Linked DNA regions of Homo sapiens. The protein of the gene in region 2 purifies or fractionates together with the protein of the main gene of each other region. This does not show direct contact. Each region holds a gene or a part of one and is shown on either strand. Other genes may lie near its edges. The genes, in order: MLLT10, KIF6, ACADS and HEATR5A.

Evidence for each region.
Region 1: the proteins of KIF6 (region 2) and MLLT10 purify together in Homo sapiens (affinity purification with mass spectrometry; one large-scale study listed by BioGRID and IntAct). This does not show direct contact.
Region 3: the proteins of KIF6 (region 2) and ACADS purify together in Homo sapiens (affinity purification with mass spectrometry; 2 studies listed by BioGRID and IntAct, with this or other methods). This does not show direct contact.
Region 4: the proteins of KIF6 (region 2) and HEATR5A purify together in Homo sapiens (affinity purification with mass spectrometry; 3 studies listed by BioGRID and IntAct, with this or other methods). This does not show direct contact.

Annotation. Positions count from the first base shown.
Region 1 is NC_000010.11:21,736,708-21,740,275, forward strand, and holds part of MLLT10 (protein AF-10), read left to right. Parts: intron 1-3,322; coding exon 3,323-3,529; intron 3,530-3,568. UniProt on the Homo sapiens protein: Probably involved in transcriptional regulation. In vitro or as fusion protein with KMT2A/MLL1 has transactivation activity. Binds to cruciform DNA.
Region 2 is NC_000006.12:39,333,847-39,337,414, reverse strand, and holds part of KIF6 (kinesin-like protein KIF6), read left to right. Parts: intron 1-866; coding exon 867-883; 3' UTR 884-3,568.
Region 3 is NC_000012.12:120,728,761-120,732,328, forward strand, and holds part of ACADS (short-chain specific acyl-CoA dehydrogenase, mitochondrial isoform 1 precursor), read left to right. Parts: intron 1-3,568. UniProt on the Homo sapiens protein: Short-chain specific acyl-CoA dehydrogenase is one of the acyl-CoA dehydrogenases that catalyze the first step of mitochondrial fatty acid beta-oxidation, an aerobic process breaking down fatty acids into acetyl-CoA and allowing the production of energy from fats.
Region 4 is NC_000014.9:31,382,541-31,386,108, reverse strand, and holds part of HEATR5A (HEAT repeat-containing protein 5A), read left to right. Parts: intron 1-2,337; coding exon 2,338-2,588; intron 2,589-3,568.

The DNA.
Region 1 (3,568 bases), on a different chromosome or scaffold from region 2:
GAAAAATAGGTGTCATGGACACACTAAGCTTGAAATCTCTTTAGATGTACAAGTCAAATGGAGATAAGGCAGTTGCACAGTAGGTGTCTGGAGTCCCAGGCAGAGATGCAGTTAGTTAGAAATCTGGGGTTAGTGCTGCACAGGTGATGAGAGCCATCAGATTTGATGCGGACTCCTAGAGCATGAAGACTGAGTCCTGGACACCCTAGAAAAGGAGAATAAGCCAGTAAAGAAAGGCTATTGAGAAACTGTGGCCAGTGAGCCAAGAGAAGGACAGTGTGGCATCTTAGGGGCAAGGTGAAGGAAATGTTTCCAGAAAGGGAGGAGTCAACTGTGTAAAATGCTTCTGTGGTAGGGTAAGAAAGAATTGACCAACCGGGCGTGCTGGTGCATGCCTGTGGTTCCAGTTAATTGGGAGGCTGAGGTGGGAGGATCACTGGAGCCCAGGAGGTTGAGGGTGCAGTGACACCTGCACCTGACAGGGACTGTTTCTTTCTTAAAGGTTGTCTAGAGGCTTTTTACAGTTTGGGTGTGATGAAAGTAAAAACCTCATTAAATGGTTCAAAAGGAAATGGGAGGGAGAGGAAGTAAAGATAGCATATGGGCACCTCAAGACATGTCACTTTGGAAAGCAGAGGAAGGGGAAGCAGGAGGCAGATGTGGTGGGCACACGGGGCAGTTTCGACTCATTTTGAATGTGACAGCGTGTGTGTATGTTGATGGGACATTGCTGGGATAGGAGAGAAGAAAGGTGCTAGCAGAGGAGGAGATGAGAACGGTATTTCACTGCCCCAGCAAGGCAGGCAGAGCAACTGGAGGTGGGTTTTATGTGGAGGGTTGAAGCAATCCCACTTTCAGTGCTTCTGATTTTCTTAATTAGAAGTAAAGTGATCAGCAGAGGGAAGGAGATGGGTGTTAACGGTTAGATAAGAGGGGAGATGGGAAATAGAGAACTTGTAGAAGGGGAGAAAGTATGGACCGAGACCCAAGTGGGATTGTGGCTCAGGTGCAGGGCAGGCCTGGCCCTGTGGACAGTCGTGGGGCTTCCTCCAGACCCATTTCCCTAGCACTCTTCATTCAGTTGGGCTGCTTGGAGAATGCATTGCTTAATTAACATAGAAATTACAAAGGCTGACATCCTTTCTAAGTATATTTATGTACTATTTTGCTGCAGTCAAAAATATATTGAAAATACTTTTGATTCTGGATCATTTTCAGTCTGTTTTTAGAGTGGTGTTAAAGGCACACTGCATGTAAGTGTATATAAATTCTTAAATGCTGGCCGGGCGTGGTGGCTCATGCCTGTAATCCCAGCACTTTGGGAGACGGAGGTGGGCGGATCACGAGGTCAGGAGTTCGGGACAAGCCTGACCAACGTGGTGAAACCCCGTCTCTACTAAAAATACAAAAATTAGCCGGGTGTGGTGGCGCGTGTGTATAATCTCAGCTACTCAGGAGGCTGAGGCAGGAGAATCGCTTGAACCAGGAGGTGTAGGTTGCAGTGAGCCGAGAGCACACCACCGCACTCCAGCCTGGACAACTAGAGCGAGACTCGGTCTCAAAAAAAAAAAATCTTAAATGCTGACACTAAGATGGGATCTTGTTTTTTCTTACCAGTTGCCTCATCTTAATATGAGCACTAAAACTCCATTTATTTGGGTGTCTTCCTATTAATCAAGATTTTACTCTAATAATAGCATGTGTAGCTGTCTCATTTCCAGAACATGGTTAAGGAATTTTCAGCACAAATTATTGCTTGGAGACCATGAGGACTAAAGGACTGTACTTTTTCCTTCATCTGCCAATGTCGTGGGCTAAAGTTTGTTCATTTACAGGGATCAAACTTAACGTAGGTGAGGATTTTTTGGAAGCCTCCGCACAGCTTCCGCTCGACACTCTTGCTTGACTCTGCTTCCCCCAGATGACTTGCATGTTTGCTAAATCCAGTGGTCCCTTCTCATTCTTCATCTTAACGTCACCTGGCAACGGCATTAGACAGAGTTGATCGCTTTTCCTCCTCCTTGAAACATTTCCTCCTCTTAGCTTCCAGGATACCACATCATCTTGGTGTCTTACTACCTAACTGGTCATTCCTTTTTAGCATCCTTTCCTGGGTCCTCCTCTTCAGCCTGAGAGTGCCCAAGGTGGAATTCAGTGATCTCTCATCACTGTCTGTAAATAGCATCTCTGTGCTGATACTTACATCTCCAGCCAGACCTCTCTCTGGAGCTTCAAGCTCCTGTAATGCAGCTGCTCACTCAGTAGCTCCGCTGGCATATCTTAAAAGACATTTCAAACATAACGTGTCCAGAACCGAACAGCTGATCTTCCTGCACAACCCCGCCCCACCCATCGTTTTCCTCACCTCAGCTGATGGCAGCTCCATCCTCACTCTGACACCCCACATTGACTCCATCCTGAAATCAGACTGTGCCACTTCTCAAAACCTTCCCGTTTTACCATGAATACAAGCCAAGGTGGCCATGCCTTGCCACTGCAAGCTCTGTGTTCTCCTCACTTCCTCCTGGCTCCCTCCACCCTTCCCGGGTCCTTGCTGCCACTGGATCCTGCTGGGCCTGCTCCTCTGGAGGCCTTTGGCACTGCCTGGAAATCCTCACCTGCCCCCATATCCACCCAGCGAATTCCCTCTTCTCCTCCAAATCTTCATCCAGATGTTAACTTCCCAATGAAAACTGCCCTGGGTAATCTGCTTAAAATTACAACCTGACCATTAAACCCTACTCCCTCCAGACTTTCTCATACACAGTTGTGTTTCCCTTGACGCAGAGCAGTAATCACATTCTAACGTTTTCATTTATTTCCCTTTCCCTGCTCAATGTGTTTCAAGCACCAAAAGCAGTGCCTGGCACCTAGTAAGCACTCAGGAAATCTATAAATATACGCTGCATGGAGTATATGCTTGCTGTAGAGTGGTAACTGCATCAAGAAAGCACCCTAATGACAGGCAGAAACGGGAACTTTAAGGTTGTTTTAAGTTTGGAAAGGGTTTGACCACGCATGATGCATTCAAATGTCCACCTTGATTTCTCTTAAGCTGCTGCACTTCCTGATTGATCATCACGGATAACCTAATAGAGCTCTCCTATGTGTGTCCTGTTTTGAAAATAAGCTGTTTGCTGAAGATACTGACATTTTATAGTAGATGGTTATTATCTAGTGCAGCATATTTTTCTAGATGAGATACTTGTTTTCTTTCTTTGCAAATATCTAATATTAAAGGAAAGAAAACATAAGGCAGCTCATCTGACTGCTGAATTCCGTGCTTGGGAACTCATTTTCTCTCACATGTTTTTTGCCTAAGGAACAACATCAAGCCTTTTTGTATCAGTTAATGCAACATCACCACCAGCAGCACCACCAACCTGAACTTCAGCAGCTGCAGATCCCTGGACCAACACAAATACCCATAAACAACCTTCTTGCAGGTACACAGGCACCCCCACTTCACACAGCTACCACCAACCCATTTCTCACCATCCATGGAGATAATGCAAGTCAGAAAGTAGCAGTAAGTATATTTTCCTTACTACATCTAATGAAACAAGAA
Region 2 (3,568 bases):
CTTGAACCCCGGAGGCAGAGGTTGCAGTGAGCCGAGATTGTGCCACTGCACTCCAGCCTGGGTAACAGAGCAAGACTCCGTCCAGAAAGAAAAGAAAGAAAAAGAAAGAAGGAAGGAAGGAAGGAAGAGGGGAAGGGAGGGGAGGCTGGAGGGAGGGAGGGAAAGAAAAGAAAGAAAAAGAAAGAAAGAAAGAAAGAAAGAAAGAAAGAAAGAAAGAAAGAAAGAAAGAAAGAAAGAAAGAAGGAAGGAAAGAAAGAAAAGAAAGAGAAAGGAAGGAAGGAAGGAGGAAAGAAAGAAAGAAAGAGAAGAAAGAAGAAAGAAAGGAAAGAAGGAAAGAAAGGAAAGAGAAAGAAAGAAAGAAAGAAAAAGGAAGGAAGGAAAAGAAAGGAAGGAAGGGAGGGAGGGAGGGAAGAAAGGAAGGAAAGAAGGGGAGAGAAAGAGAGAAAGAATGAAAGAGAAGAAAGAGAAAGAAAAAGAAAGAAAGAAGAGAAAGGGAAGAAAGGGAAGAAAGGGAAGGAAGGGAAGGAAGGACAGAAGAAAGGAAGGAAGGAAAAGACAAGACTCCAGCCTCGGTGACAGAGCGAGACTCCATCAAAAAAAAGAAAGAAAGAAAAGGAAAGAAAACGGTGGGGTAGGAAAACAGGCGTCAGTCTCAGCCTAGGGAGATGGAGCTTCTGCAAAGGGCAAAGGGGGCCTCTTCCTTCAGAGCTTGGGGTATAAATGCAGCTCCTGGGAGGCAAGACACAGATGCAGTGCCCAAGACCCAGGGGGAGTGGCTGGTGGCCTCCCCTCCCCCCGATTCAATCCTGGGAAAAGTCAGTGTCTGCATGCACAGCCTAACCAAAAGCATCCTGTCTCCCTTTCAGGTTTGGGAAGCAATTGAATTTCCAGGAAATATCCATCCATGAATTATGCCAGCAAGAATGAAGCACAGATGAAGGCAGCGCCCCTCACTTGCTCTGGCTTCAGAAGTGAACTATGGGCTGCTGGGAGCAACTAGTGACTTTGATTCCCATGGAGGGGACTGTGTTTCTTTAAGGATGCTGACCTGGAGGCCACCGAGAGGCTGGGGCTGGGGCTGACCACAACATCCTTCCTGTGGTTGCTGGAGCTGCTGGCAGGGCCAGGCAAGGCCAGAGTGCTAGGGGCAGGGTGAAGGCTTCAGCTCACTGTTGTAGTGACGTTTTGTGTAGATCTTTATAAGCTTTTGAGAATGTGAAATAGCACCATCAAAATATAATGTCAGAGGATGCTCACACCAGTGGAATGTGGGGGGAATATTTTTATTTTTAACGATTTGCCAGCTCTCTCCCTTGGCCCGTGCTCTGGTTTGGAAGCCCAGAAATGGCCATGACAGGTCCAGGCAGGATGTCCCAGCCACAGGCAAGGCAGTGGAATGCAGGGCATCCTGAAGGCCAATCCTGATCTCCCAGACCACATCTTTCACCATCAGCCTCTTGGCCAGGATGACCTGGAGGCAGTGCCTGAACAGCTGTGTCTCCAGGGAGCCATCTGCCCTGCAGGGTCTAAGGACATCATAGCACCCAGAGAACAGTGGGCAGCTCCCAGGGGCTCTGCTGAGAGCTTGAGAGAGGGCAGTGTGGGTACCTTGGGCCTCACAACCTTCACCCAGCCACTTGGGAGGATTTGGGCTGACACTCCCCACTTCCACAGGGAAAAACATAGCTGCCTGGGGGTCTTGTCTCCATGGGCCCTCTCCATGACAGATCCAAGGGAAGGTGGGCAGCCCTCAAGGAGGTTCTTGAAGAACTGCCCCCTGGGCCAGGGGGTTCCAACCCAGCTGCAGCCAGGGAGGGGCAGCGGAGGGTGAGCAGGAGTGGCACCTGGAAATGAAGCTAACTGGATAAAAGTGCTGGTCCACTGCTCCTGGTGTCTCTGTCCTATAAATACAGGACCTGATGACCCTGGAGGGGAGCAGAGTGGTAATATAGTATAATTGGCTTGATTTTCTTTTTCGTTTTTTAGGACTGGGTAACAGGATCATGCAGGAGAAGATTAAACCATTACATTTCTAAGCTAGGCAGGCCCATCGAGCTCCTCTAATCCACACCCCTATTTTATATAATTAGAAGGCCAGAGTGAAGGGGAGATTCAGCTTGCTGTTCTATGCCACTGACAAATGTCCCCTCTTCAGGGGGCTTCCCCTGACCACTCCATCTCGAGTCACCCCCTAGTTATCCCCTATCCCATTACCATTTTTTCTGCATCACTATCTGACATGTTATCCTTCCGAACTTGCCTATTTTTGAAATACCTGCAACCCCCCATAATACTAAGAGCTCCAATGCAACAGGGACCTGTTTGTCTTGCTCATTGCTGTGTCCCAAGCACAGAGTCGCTGTTCAGTAAACGGTCCTTCAGTTCATGAGTAGACGAGCCAGAACCCAGATGTGTTTCTCAGGCTGGTGTCACTCTGACTTCCCCCAGGCTCTGACTGAATCCCATCGGGACAGGGGCCAGCATCTCTGGTCCACTCCTGGCCCTCACAGTTCAATGGAACATAGTAAGCCCTCTGTAAAGTCTGTAGAACCAGAGGAAGACCAAATTCTGATTCTAGAAGCCTCCCCAAGAGTCCATGGAACACACATGTAACTGCACACACACACACACATACACACACACACTCTCAAGAGCCCTGAAGATGGCATGGCATTTGCCCCAGTCCCCTATGTAGCAGCAGCAGTATTCTTGGCATGCCTTAGTGCCCTCAGCCCTCTAGAGCTGGGTAGAGTCTACTAACTTTTATTTTCTTTTATTTTTACTTTCTTTTATTTATTTTTTGAGATGGGGGGGGTCTCTGTCAGCCAGGCTGGGGTGCAGTGGTGCGACCATACCTCACTAGTCAGCCTCCAACTCCTGGGCTCAAGCCATACTCAGCCTCCAACTCCTGGGCTCAAGCGATCCTCTCACCTCAGCCTCCAAAGTAGCTGGAACTACAGGCATGCACCACCACACCTAGCTCGTTTTAAATTTTTTGTAGAGACAGGGTCTCACTGTGTGGCTCAGGATGGTCTCAAATTCCTGGCCTTAAGCGATGCTCCCGCCTTGGCCTCCCAAAGTGCTGGGATTGCAGGCATGAGCCACATACCCTGCCAGAGTCTTTCAACATTAGATCTCCCACTGAGACATCATCTCCTGGATCCAAAGGCCTTACTGACAGAGATGTGTGGCATGGCCCCATGCGGGGTGTGAACCAGCCTCCTGGGGCAATCACTAAGACAGGAAAGGAAATGAAGACAGAAAAACACACAACATGGGATCTGGGGCCACTGGTGTCCAGAGCATATGCAAAGTGTGTGCAGCAACTGGCCAAGGGGCCTTTTGCTCCGAACATCCCCTAATGGAAGCCCAGCCTTTGATATGGACACATGCTTGACAGCAGTGCACCTTCCCAGAGTTCACTGGCCTCTGCAAATGGGAGAAATTGATGCAATGTTTTGAAAAGACTTTCCAGCAATCCACCTGGGATCAGTGGAGCCACGGATGACAAGAAGTATCTGAGTTCACTCTAGGCCAAAATGTGGGATTTTCAAAAACATTTTCTGGA
Region 3 (3,568 bases), on a different chromosome or scaffold from region 2:
CCTCGCAAAGTGCTGGGATTACAGGCGTGAGCCACCACACCCGGCCTTAAAAATGAGTTTTAAAAGGGACGTAAAACATTGTTTTTATATGAGGGACCCACTAACCGTTTCCCAGATATGAAGGCAGCAGGTGCTGCAGGCTTGCCTTGTCTGTCACTGCTGGGAAAGGGGTCTTACAGTTTCTTACGGTTTCTCTTGGGAGTCTGGAGACCACCAGGCTCAGCCTCATCAGTGCTGTTGCCTCTTCTCAGGGTGCAGGTCAGGGTTGCTGGGTCACAGACACTAGGAACCAAGAGTGACCATTGCAGGGGGCTCTAGGAGGCCACCCCTTGAGATAGCTCTGAAGGTCAGGCCTCTCTGTAGAAAATACTAAAATATTGGGGCTGGGACGGGCGCCTGGCTGCTGTTAGTTAATTACCATCAATTTACATAGGTCAGAAACGATGGACAAACCCGAACCCATTTTTTTCCCTTGACTGCTTCTCTTTTTCTTTTTTCTTTTTTTTTTTTTTTTTGAGATGGAGTCTCACTCTGTCCCCCAGGCTGGAGTGCAGTGGTGCGATCTTGGCTCACTGCAGCCTCTGTCTCCCAGGTTCAAGTGATTATCCTGCCTCAGCCTCCCAGGTAGCTGGTACTACAGGTGCCCGCCACCATGCCTGGCTAATTTTTGTATTTTTAGTAGAGATGGGGTTTCACCATGTTGGCCAGGCTGGTCTTGAACTCCTGACCTCAGGTGACCTGGCTGCCTCAGCCTCCCAAACTGCTGGGATTACAGGTGTGAGCCACTGCTTAATTATATTTTGGGTTTCTCCTTTTTGACTGTCTCGTCTCTTCCCTCTCCTGCCACCCCTTTTTCCTTCCCTCGGTGCTGGTCTCCCTGTCTCTTTTTCAGGAGGCCCTTTAACGAGTGCACATTACCATGGTTATTGCTTTTGTCCCCACTTTTTTTCTAGAATGTTCCTGTAGCTGGCCACAGTTTGTTGCCTGAAATCTAGAGATAAATTTCAGAGTGAGAAGGCCTGGGAAACAGCCCCTGTCACCACTGATAAAATGGGGTGAGGTGACTGTGTCCAGGCTCTGGGATGGGATGGAGAAGGCTGTGCTCTTAGGTGCTGCCCCAGAGCGGTGCTCCTCTCTTTTGAAATTTGCTGTCTCAACACCAGAGTGGGAGTGAGTGGAACTGCCATGTCTTTCACAGCCACAGGTAGATGCTTTATTTTTTAAATTATTTTTGTGTGTGTGTGATGGAGTCTCGCTCTGTCCCCAGGCTGGAGTACAGTGGTGCGATCTCGGCTCACTGTAGCCTTTGCCTCCTGGGTTCAAGCAATTTTCCTGCCTCAGCCTCCCAAGTAGCTGGAACTACAGGTGCGCACCACCACACCCGGCTAATTTTTGTCTTTTTAGTAGAGACGGGGTTTCACCATGTTGGCCAGGCTGGTCTCGAACTCTTGACTTTGTTATCCGCCCGCCTGGGCCTCCCAAAGTTCTGGGATTACAGGCATGAGCCACCGCGCCCAGCTGGTAGATGCTGTAAAAGAAAATGCTGATGGTGAGAAAGGAGGGAAGACAGGAGCTGGGGGAAAATTGAGGGCGATGGTATATGCTAGTGAGGTCCTTTGGGTGTGGGAATTGTGAATTCCTACAACTTTTGATTCTAGCTCATTGAGAAGTGTCGCATTAGTCAGAGGGAGGCGGCGCTGTGTAGGGAGGAGGAGGCTGGGGTTCTGTCTTGCCTCCTGGTGGCCTAGACCTGGCCACTGACACCACATACCCTTTCTGTGTGAATTCCCTCATCTGTAAGAGGAATATGGGGTCACCCTCATTCTGCTACCTGTCGGGACGTGTGACCAAGCATTTTAGGTGAGTATGAGGAACTGAACGCACCTAGGAGAGTTTCATCCTTTTACTCTCTTTCTGGGAATTTGGGTTCCCACTGTGTTTCTGGGGATGAGATGGAGTTATGGAGCGATTGGCTCATGTGCCATTTATTCCAGGGTTTTATACCAACAAGTTCCGGGGTGAAAAGGAGGGTGTGTCTCTGTCCAGGGAGATCTGAAGGTGCTTGGAGGGTGAGGCGGCTTGAGCTAGTTTAGCCTTATTCTGTTTTGCTGGTAAGCTAGAGAAAAAGGCTTTTGGTGAGGTTCATGCCTAGGCCTGACCGTGAGTCTTGGACAACTGCATATTTATTTTTGTTTTTGTTTTTTTGAGACAGGGCCTCACTGTCGCCCAGGCTGGAGTGCAGTGACACAAACACAGCTCACTGCAGCCTTGACCTCCCGGGCTCAGGGCTCAAGTGATCCTCATGCCTCACCTCCTGCAGTAGCTGGGACCACAGGTGTGCACCGCCATGCCTGGCTCATTTATTTTTATTTTTATAACTTTTTGTGGAGATGGGGGTCTCGCCATGTTGATGAAGCTGGTCTCAAACGCCTGGACTCAGATGATCCTCCTACCTCCGTCTCCCAAAGTGCTGGGATTACAGGCCTGAGCTACCACACCCTCTTTTTAAAATTTTTTTAATTAAAAAATTTTCTTTTAGAAACAGGGGTATCATCATGTTGGCCAGGCTGGATTTGAACGCCTGGGCTCAAGTGATTCTCCTGCCTCAACCTCCTCCTGAGTAGCTGGAGACCTGCGTATTTCTAGCACTTGGTAGAGTATTGTCCAGCAGCAGAGGTGTTCCTTAATAAAATAGTTTTTTTTTTTTTTTTTGAGGCGGAGTCTCACTCTGTTGCCCAGGCTGGAGTATAGTGGCACGATCTTGGCTCACTGCAACCTCCACCTCCTGGGTACAAATGATTCTCCTGTCTCAGCCTCCCAAGTAGCTGGGATTATAGGCGCCCACCATCACGCCTGGCTAATTCTTGTATTTATTTTATTTTATTTTATTTTTTTTATTGATCATTCTTGGGTGTTTCTCGCAGAGGGGGATTTGGCAGGGTCATAGGACAATAGTGGAGGGAAGGTCAGCAGATAAACAAGTGAACAAAGGTCTCTGGTTTTCCTAGGCAGAGGACCCTGCGGCCTTCCGCAGTGTTTGTGTCCCTGGGTACTTGAGATTAGGGAGTGGTGATGACTCTTAAGGAGCATGCTGCCTTCAAGCATCTGTTTAACAAAGCACATCTTGCACCGCCCTTAATCCATTTAACCCTGAGTGGATACAGCACATGTTTCAGAGAGCACAGGGTTGGGGGTAAGGTCATAGATCAACAGCATCCCAAGGCAGAAGAATTTTTCTTAGTACAGAACGAAATGAAGTCTCCCATGTCTACTTCTTTCTACACAGACACAGCAACCATCCGATTTCTCAATCTTTTCCCCACCTTTCCCCCTTTTCTATTCCACAAAACTGCCATCGTCATCATGGCCTGTTCTCAATGAGCTGTTGGGTACACCTCCCAGACGGGGTGGTGGCCGGGCAGAGGGGCTCCTCACTTCCCAGTACGGGCGGCCGGGCAGAGGCGCCCCTCACCTCCCGGACGGGGCGGCTGGCCGGGCGGGGGCTGACCCCCACCTCCCTCCCGGACGGGGCGGCTGGCCGGGCGGGGGCTGCCCCCAACCTCCCTCC
Region 4 (3,568 bases), on a different chromosome or scaffold from region 2:
GTTCCTCAAAGGTCTTTAAAGCAGTATTTTCTTTCTTAAGTGTTTAATCACTTTATAATAGCTTTATTCAGATATAATTCATGGCTAGGCACAGTGGCTCATGCATATAATCCAGCACTTTGGGAGGCTGAGGCAGGCATATCACTTGAGGTCAGGAGTTCAAGACCAGCCTGGCCAACATGGCAAAACCCCGTCTCTACTAAAAATAGAAAAATTAGCCCGTCATGGTGGCGCATGCCTGTATTCCCAGCTACTCGGGAGGCTGAGGCACGAGAATCGCTTGAGCCCCAGACGTGGAAGTTGAAGTGAGCCAAGATAACGCCACTGCACTCCAGCCTGGGCAACAAGAGACTTTGTCTCAAAAAACAAAAAAAGATATAAATCACTTACCATGAAGTTTACGCTTATAAGGTATACAATTCAGGGATTTTGAGTATATTTGCTATACTGTACAGTCACTACCACTGTCTAATTCCAGAGTCTTTTCATTACCCCAGGAAGAAGTCCATTAGTTGTCATTTCCATTTCCCTTTGCCGCAGCCCCTGACGACCATGAATTTACTTTCTGTCTCTATGAATCCACCTATTCTGGATATTTCATGTTAAAAAAAAATCATTCAATATATGGTCATAAATGACTTGCTTCTTTTTAAAAAATCACTTTTAAAAATCACTTTTTAGGCCTGGCATGGTGGCTCACGCCTGTAATCCCAGCACTTTAGGAGACCAAAATGGGAGAATTGCTTGAGCTGAGTTCAAGACCAGCCTGGGCAACATAGTGAGAGCTCCTCTCTACTAAAAATTTTTTAAAACTTAGCCAGGTATGGTGGTGTGCACTTGTAGTAGTCCTAGCTCTTTGGGAGGCTGAGCCAGGAGCATCACTTATGCCTAGGAGACTGAGGCTACAGTGAGCTATTATCATGCCACTGCATTCCATCCTGGGTGACAGAGTGAGACCCTGTTTCAAAAAATATATCATTATGGCTTTTATCCTTCGTGGCACACATTTCTTGCTGAGAAACTTTACATTATATTTGTGTTTATAAGCTATTTAGATCTGGGACACTTACTTAAATAGCATTTGACATGAAACTTACATGTTTCATGAAAGTTTATGTTGAATCATAGCAAATAATACCCTTTCTTTTATTGATGGTGACAGTTACTTCACTGTCTTTGTAGTTAGTTGGTTAGTAGCCCACTGAGGACCTAGTGAAGCCTTGATTTTAATGTTTTATTCTTATAAGAGCAACATGGTGGATAGAAAGTGTATTAATTATGTAGGCTGGGCATGGTGGCTCATGCCTGTAATCCAGCACTTTGGGAAGGTGAGGTGAGTGGATCACCTGAGGTCAGGAGTTCAAGACCAACCTGGCCAACATGGTGAAACCTCATCTCTACTAAAAATACAAAAATTAGCCAGGTGTAGTGGCACGCACTTGGGATCCTAGCTGCTCAGGAGGCTGAGGCGAGAGGATCACTTAAACCCGGAAGGCGAAGGTTGCAGTGAACCAAGATTGCACCACTGCATTCCAGCCTGGGTGACAGAGCAAGATGCTATCTCAAAAAAAAAAAAAAAAGTATATGAATTATGTAGATAAATGTACTAGAAGGATTAAAAAATAAAAAGAGGGTGGGGCAGGGTATGACTTTTTTTTTTTTTTCAAGGCAGGGTCTCAGTCTGTCACCCACGTTGGAGTACAGTGGCACAATCTTGGCTCACTGCAAGTCCCGCCACCCTGGCTCAAGCGATCCTCCCACCTCAGCCTCCCTAGTAGCTGGGACAGCAGGCATGCATCACCATGCCTGGCTAATTTTTTGCATTTTTGGTAGAGACAGGGCTTTGTCATGTTGCCCAGACTGGTCTCAAACTCCTGAGCTCAGGCAGTCTGCCTGCCTTGGCCTCCCAAAGTGCTGGGATTACAGGCGTGAGCCACCACAGCTGGCCAGGGTGTGACATTTCTTTTCAAGGTGTTATTTGTTGATAACTTTTAATTTTTAGTACCAAATTAATAATTGATCTGAAGCTAAATAAGAGATTGGCTTATTTAGGAAATAAAGTTTTTCTTTTGTGCGCGGACTTAATTTAGGACAACTTTCATGAGATATATTAGTAGAAGTGATTCTTAGGTTAGAAAATTATTTTGAATAGGAATGGTGAGAAGGGAGAAAAATGAAGTTAAAAGAAAATTATTTGTAATTATGTATTTTTCTATTATAATGTGGCTTTTGATAAAAATATATTTTATATCCATGTGGCTATGTATTCTTTTGACTATTTTATGGTCAGGTGAGTTTTATCTATGTACCTAAGTCATCATTTGTTTATCCTTCCAGGTCTCCTTGACAGTATCTTGTCAGTTATTCTTCATCCTAGCATTTCTGTTCGACTAGCAGCAGCTTGGTGTTTACACTGCATTGCCGTGGCATTACCCTCCTACCTAACACCACTCTTGGATCGTTGCCTTGAACGGCTTACTGGACATAAGTCTTCACCTGAAGCAGTGACTGGCTTCAGTTTTGCTGTAGCAGCTTTGTTGGGAGCAGTAAAACATTGTCCTTTAGGAATTCCTCATGGAAAAGGCAAGGTAATGATTTCATTCTCTATGTATGATAATGAGGTGCTTTTTGTTAGAAGTATCTTCACATAGTAACAGAATTTGTTACTGAATGCTTTATTTTGCTGTACATCTAGCCCTGCCATATAAGTACATTTACAATTTTATTTTAGAGGATAAATAGAGCTGCAAAAGAAATCTTAAATAACTAAGCTTAATATTTAATAATTTAGTTAGTGGTATTATTTGTGGTATTACTTTAAAAATAGTTTACATATCTTAAGATCAAGTAGACAAATAGTTATATTAATGTTCTTAGGAACGAAGGTTTTCAATATAAGTAGAAAGAACTAAAACTGTAGAATTGAAGTTAAGTAAAAGTCCCATACGTTAGATTCAAATTGAAATTGTCAGTATGAACTCATTTTATTTTTTTGAAAATACTTACATCCTCCTTTTGTACAGTGAAAAGGCCTAAAAGCAATGATAACCCAGTGTCAGGGATACCCCTAGTGCCCAGATTATAGCTCTAAATACTGTTTCCAACCAAAAAGGAATCAGGACTCTATGGAGCAATGGCTAGTTTCAGGTCTGGGGCAGGAAATGCACAACATAAACTTGGGATATCTTGTCATGCCAGAAAGTAAGGAAGTCATCAAGGAATACTATGTTCATTTTAAAAAGAGGTAACTTAAGGGGCTCCCACTGATCAAAGATGGCATGATTTATACATCAAAATTAATAATGACTACAGTGAATTAAAACATACTAGATAATATATAAAATTTCATGAGTTCATAATGATATTCAACTTCTCCAAATTGTATTGCTACCAAAAAATGTCATTTTCTGAGTAAATTTAGAATCAGACAAATAAATGACACAAACCTAGTGAATAAATAACCCAGTTTTAATGTACAAAGAATTTTGAAGAGAACTAAAGAAAAATTTTAATGAAACCTAGATAATACAACATAGGCAAGCAAGGTGTTTGAATTTTGTTTCTTTTT